Regions from separate parts of the Homo sapiens genome. Here region 2 is reported to be linked to region 1. The links are microRNA targets in miRTarBase. Many come from high-throughput screens and were not tested one by one. Region 1 holds a microRNA gene; the other region holds the end of a gene's coding sequence.

Region 1 (3,529 bases):
CTTAGGAATAGGGAGGGCATTTGGATTTGTTGCTTGAAAATTAATCTCCACTGAAAGTGTCATCACTGTAACTTGGTGCTCACCTTAGGGCAAGGTACCCCCCAGGCAGAGGGATCCCAGGCAGAAAGGCTGGGAGGCCAGGCAAGGTGGCTGATGCCTATACTCCCAGCACTTTGGGAGACCGAGGTGGGCAGATCCCCTGACGTCACGAGTTCGAGACCAGCCTGACCAACATAGCAAACCCCTCTCTCTACCAAAAATACAAAAAATTAGCTGAGTTGGTGGCATTCACCTGTAATCCCAGCTAGTCGGGAGGCTGAGGCACAAGAATCACTTGAACCCAGGAGGTGGAGGTTGCAGTGAGTCAGGACTGTACCACTGCACTCCAGCCTGGGACAGAGTGAGACTCTGTCTCAAAAATAAATAAATAAATAAATAAATAAATAAATAAATAAATAAATAAAAGGCTGGGAAATGCTTTTTCTGATCACTAATTCTAATTGTATTCCTGCCACAGTGGGGGATGGTCCCCAAGCACTGGGCTTTTTTCCCTTGGCCACACCTCTGGATGTAGCAGCACAGAGGCAGGTACTGGGACCAAGAAATTCCATACACACAAGTCCACTCCCTCAGCTGTGGAGCAGGCACCAGACAAGCTCCGAGGTCAGGTGTGTCCCCCCTGCTGCCAGGTACACTGAACATCCGGGAACCTCGGTCTCCAGTGCATACCTCTCGGTGCCCGCATACACTGTGGCTGTCGGGCCACAGACAATGAGGCCCTGAGCCCCAGGATGTGGAGTCACAAGGTGCCTCCATTATAGGTGCCCCAAAGTGATTGTTGGGGGAATTAGTAATTAAGGAGGGTTTTTCTCCCCCTGCCCTTCAGGTAGTGGTATGGAAGCAGTCCACTGCTCCCTGAAAACAGAGACCCTGCCCCACTTCCCTGCTCACACCATAGTTTGTCCATGTTTCTGGAAGAGTCTGCCGATGGGTGTTTAGGGTGGTGACCTGAGATGTTTTCTAGGAAACACAAAAGATACAAAAAAGAACACGTGGAAGGATAGCCAAAAAGGGGGGCTGCCCCCATTTCCTGCACCCCGCTGCGATGGCTGGCACCATTAGGTAGACTGGGATTTGTTGTTGAGCGCAGTAAGACAACAACAAAATCACTAGTCTTCCAGATGGGGCCAGCCGGTCCACTCTGTATCCAGGCCAGTTCTGCAAGGCGTTCGAGGACCACCCCCCTCCCCTCGCCACCAGGTCAGCGGTCTGGATGCTCCTTCAGGCGAGGCGTTGTCTCCGCTCCTATTACTAAGTTCATCTTTGAACACCTCTCCTCACCTCAGAATTCCCTGGAGAAATTATTTTTTCTTACTTTTCCCTTTTTTCTGGAGTGTTCTACTTTCTATAATGGACACAGTTGTTTTGTTTTGTTTTGGTGAGACAGGGTCTTGCTCTGTCACCCAGGCTGTAGTGCAGTGGTGCAATCACAGCTCACTCCAGCTTCAACCTTCCAGACTCGAGTGTTCAAGTGATTCTTCCACCTCAGCCTCCCTAGTAGCTGAGACTACAGCTAATTTTTTTTTTTTTTTTTTTTTTTTTAGTAAAGACAAGGTCTCAGTATATTGCCCAGGCTGGTCTTGAACTCCTGGGCTCAAGTGATCCTCCTGCCTCAGCCTCTCAAAGTGCTGGGATTATAGACGTGAGCCACTGCACCCAATTTGAGCATATTTCCTTTACAAACAGGGGAATTATTTTTAAAGAGAAGCAGGCAAGTGGCTCATTTCTCTCTTTCCTTTACTAATCATAAAGCATTGAACCACCATGCAGAAGAGAAACTAGAGCTTGGAAATGGTGACCCCTCTCTACTGGTGCCTCCCCCTTCTGGAAGCCTATGGGCATGGCCCATGGTGAAAATTCTTCCTGTGGTTACTGAGCCCTGGAAGCTTCAGAATGAAGTCAGAGTGGTGGTGCTGGGGTAAGCAGAGCAGGAAGAGGAAAAGGGGAAATGGTTGTGGACAGGAGGCTGGTGGAATCCTGGCCCAGTCATCCCCTCCCTGCAGGCACAGCGCTGGGCTCCCTGGTTAATTTCCCTTGCAGTGTGGCACTGGTGGAGGAGAGGCAAAGCCCCTGCTGCCTGGGCCAGCCTCTAATTGCGCTGGCAGGACACATCCGCTCCTTAATTAGCAAAAGCCACAATATCCTGGCGGCTCAGAGAGCATGGCCCTAATTGTATTTCTGCAGCAACTGAAGGATAATTACCCTTCCCTATTGGTGCTGCTTTTAATTCTTTCTCTTTTTAATTGTGAGCACTTCCTCTTTAGCCCACCCTTCCATCCTTGGGTTTATTCTCTCTATCCAGAATGGGGGTGGGGGCTTGCCTGGTGATGGAGACGCTCAGGAGCAGGAGGAGTGGGGGGAGTCATGGAGAAGACTGGCAATACCTAGCTCTGAGTCCCAGCCCCTTCCAGCTGTCAGCCTGAGACAGGGCACATCTCTGCCATGGGTCTGAGAAAAACCAAGAAGTTCTTTTGTGGAAGATGTAAGGGAGAGGTGTTCCTCCCCCAGAGGCTCTTTATGACCCTCTTCAGTCTACCCCGCAGTGAGGTGCTGGCTCTGAAATTCCCAGCTGTAGAAAACTGAGACCTCCTTTCCCCATCCTTTAATCTATCAAGAAACAGAGATGGATGTGTGGTCTTTAATTTCTTTTACAAAAAAAAAAAAAAAATAGCCCCGTGCCTCTTTGCCACTGTTGAGAGGAGGGTTAGTCCTTCAACCTTGAATTGTTTTAGAGACAAGGACCTGAGGGTACCATTAGAGAACAATGCTAACTAAGGTAACCCCTTGGTTAATAGGAGAGCTTAGCACCCTAGGTATTTCTAGGAAAAACAGGCCTTTCTTAGGGACCTGGCAAATAAACTTTGAGAAGTAATAGACAAGCTAAAATGCACCACAAAGAGAGTTTGGAGAGAACCACAGCATCTCTCTGGATGTCAGCTTGCAGGACTGACTGATCTAGCTTACATGAGCAACCCTGGCCCTAAAGCCACCACCCAAACCACTGCCCTGCTAGAAGCTCACTATGAGAGCAGGGACTCTCACTCATTATTCTTCCAAGTGCCTCGCGCACAGCCTGGCCCGTGATAAATGAAACTGGTTGGCAAAGAAGCAGAGTTCAGAGACAGAGTAGGATTGTGAGGTGTGAACAGGGTAAATCCATTTTCATTGGCTTTTTCCTTACAGATCCAATGAAGATGAATTTGAACTGATTGTGGCCCTAGTTTTCAAAATTCTTTAATTCTGGGCTCTATCTGAATTGGGAGAAGATGCAAGCAATAAAAGAGGCTGCTGTAGTCTCAAAGAAATATATTTTGAAAAAATGACCTGCCCTTGAGCCCACCAACTTCCACTCCCCACTTCTAATTTCTTTCCTCTGAATTTAGAGCTGTTCCCTTAGCAACGCTTGTTTCCATGGTTTCCTCCATGACAATGATCCCAAACCCCTCCTCTCTTTTACCTCATGACAGTA
Region 2 (3,000 bases), not on the chromosome of region 1:
AGAATCACTTGAACCCGGGAGGCGGAGGTTGCAGTGAACCAAGATCGCGCCATTGCACTCCAGCCTGGGAAACGAGCGAAACTCCGTCTCAAAAAAAAAAAAAAAAAAAGAAAACAACTATACTGATTTGTCATATCTCAGACATAATGGATATTTTTCTAGCAGACCTGTTTCTTCAAAGTCTACTCAATATTAAAGAATTTCTTAGGTTCCGTGAAAGAGCCAGTGCTGTAGTTTGAAAACTGATTACTTTGAAAGAAAATAACATGGGCATTGGATTCAAAGCCTTAAGCTATTTTCAGCCTGCTTATAAAATGAGATGAGAATTTTAAAAATAAAATTATGTTTGACTTTTTTTTTTTAGGCAGCCTTTTCATTAACCAAACTTCTTGAAGCCACATCTGCAGTATCAGCTCAAGTGGAAGAACTTGCCTTCAAATGTACAGAAAATGCACGTTTCCTTAAAACGTGGCGGGACCTCTTGAAAGAAGGCTATGATTCTTTGAAACCTGATGACTGATTTGGCATACTTCGTTGTTTAATAATGACTGCAATAATTCATACTTCTTATGTCATATTTTGTACATGTACCACACATATAGGATGACCTCTGTCCAGCAGTTCTGTATATACTCAGAATGAAATTTTTCTTGGTTTTCTTGGTTTTTGTGAAAGCAGAATACCGATGCTATTTTTGTTGCGGACCAGTACTTGTTTGTCCTTAAATACTTTATGCCTCTGAACTTTCATAGAATCCTTTATGAAAGTTAACTTCATCAATAGACGGTTAATATTAATAGAGCCACAGTGCTACCAGTAGCAAACTAGGTAGACCATTATTTGTTTTGCAACAAGATGCTAAGCATGGCAGACTTTGAAGTTGCGTTTCATCTTAAGGACCAAGGGAGGTAACTTTAAGGTTGCCAGTGGTGGATCCAGCTCCGTTAGGCTAAGTTGTCTACAGCTAATGATTGTGTCTTTATTCTATATCCCCAGCACCTAAAACAGGGTCACACAACATTCACTAAATGTTTGTTGAATAAAAGAGTTAACAAACATAATTGAAAGCTTTTTTTCTTCCTATATTTAGCATGAAGACTGTCATTGTTTCTCTAGGAAATGTATGAATCTGAACTTTTTTGACTTGAAGAAAAACATTCTTTTTTTACAGAGATTTGGACTTTGATGATAGGTTTTAAAAATATATGATAAATATTTTTTGTACTTGTTTGATTTTTTTTTTAAAGACTTTACTTCAGAAAGGGAAAGACTGTTTAGAAAGAATGCATATTTTTTCCCTATTTATTTCTGTGGTTACTGCTTTTGCAGTTTAACAGTGTTTGTATTTGATATTTGTATATGTTTGATTGCTATCTTTAAAGTGCCTTATCAGATTTATGGCTCTGTGCTATTACTTTTTGAGCTTTGCAAGTTGTGTACATAATAATTCTAAAGAAGTTACTTTGTTTGCAATGCATCAAATTTAAATGATGTGATTTTTTTTGTATTATTTGATCTTAGTGACAGTGTTCTATTTTGCATCCTGTATCTTATGTTGCTTTTGGTGTTTTGTGTTGTGTGTCAACGATTAAGCCAACTAATTCTCTACCATATATAACTTCTGGACATTTTTGATACAACATCTTAATTCTTTGTAGATATGGAGATAGGTACAGAACTATATTCTAATGCCCCACAATGGGGCTATGAGAGGGGACAGATGGATGGGCAAAGAATAGTTTTGTTTAACATATTAGGTCATAGTTCTTGATTAGTTTTTTTAGTTAAAGATAAACACATAGGGTGTGATTTCTATACCAAAGATATGCTTATTTCAGTATTAGAAAAATATTCTTCTTACATCTCCTGAAAATTGCAATTTTTAAAATGTGTAAAAATAAATTATTATTAAAAGCACATTTTATTTCCATTTGTTTGGATTCATTACCTTAAAACTTTATTGACATATTTCAAAGATATAGGAAAGGTAAATGATTTCAAGAAAATCCGTGTATTTCTACCATGCAGATGTAATAAATGTTAGCATTTGGCTATATTTTCTTCAGACACACATATGCATGTAATTGCAAATGTTAGATACATTTGAAGTTTGCTTTGTTACCTGTTTGATCCTGTCCCGTTCCTCCCTCCCCAGAGTCCCCAGAGGTAACCACTAGAGGGGGCATAATATAGCATGTGTTTTTATATTTTTAATACAAATATATTTTTTAAAAGCGCTACAAAATATTGTTTTATATATGTGGTAGCCAGCTTCCAGATGGCCCCAGTGATCCCTGGCCTCCTGGTGTTCATGCCCCAGTATAGCCTTCTCCTGCATTTTACAGTGCTGACTTTTGTAACTACCAGGATATTGAGCAAATGCAGTGTGTGATTTCTGAGGCCATATCTTTTACTCTTTTTTTTTTTTTTAAGAGACAAGATCTCACTCTATTGCTCAGGCTGGAGTGTGGTGGCAGGATCATAGCTCACTGTAACCTTAAACTTGGACTCAAACAATCCTCCCATCTCGCCTCCTCCTATAAAGCACTGGGATTACAGGCATTTTTGCTCATTTTTCTATGTTGTTTTTTTTACTTGTCAGTTTTTAGATATTACATATTTTGAATACTAATGATCTGTTATGTATGTTCCAATTATCTTTTTTAGTCTGGTTTGTCTTCATATTTTGGTTATGAAATCTTGAATTTTTAAAAACGTAATTTTACCAATCTTTCATAATGATTTGCTTTTTCTGGTTTTTGTATAGGAAATGTCATAAAAATAGTCCTATTCAGCCTTCCAAAAGTTACAAAATTTTTGTTTTTAACATTTAGATGTTTAGTCCAACTGAAATTTGTTTTCTTTTATGGCATGATTTTGGAATCTTGTTTTAATTATTTTTACATATTTATAGCTGTTCCTCCAAGTATCAATTTTTCAAGTGCAACATCTGTCATGCAGTTACTATGTAAGGGCCAGATTCTGACCTTTCTGTTCTTT

What was found. The annotated mature microRNA hsa-miR-7-2-3p reads CAACAAAUCCCAGUCUACCUAA and lies in region 1 at 1,119-1,140, opposite strand. An mRNA with a match to its seed (bases 2 to 7 or 8) in the 3' UTR can be bound and repressed. Matches are read on the target gene's strand: a 7mer-m8 pairs with bases 2 to 8, a 7mer-A1 pairs with bases 2 to 7 and ends in A, and an 8mer does both.
Region 2: miRTarBase lists C4orf46 as a target of hsa-miR-7-2-3p. Seed matches in the 3' UTR shown: 7mer-m8 at 839-845, 7mer-m8 at 1,930-1,936, 7mer-A1 at 2,115-2,121 and 7mer-m8 at 2,853-2,859.

What each region holds. Positions count from the first base shown.
Region 1 is chr15:88,609,507-88,613,035 of GRCh38, reverse strand. MIR7-2 (microRNA 7-2) reads right to left here and starts at 1,211; the gene lies at 1,102-1,211. It overlaps MIR3529 (microRNA 3529), which reads left to right and starts at 1,112; the gene lies at 1,112-1,189. It also overlaps a transcript of AEN not described here. RefSeq lists an enhancer at 1-2.
Region 2 is chr4:158,667,133-158,670,132 of GRCh38, reverse strand. C4orf46 (chromosome 4 open reading frame 46) reads left to right here. Exons shown (of 2, transcript NM_001008393.4): 2 at 365-3,000. The coding sequence ends at 520. Among named protein-coding and RNA genes, the nearest start is that of C4orf46, 3.3 kb to the left of the region's middle.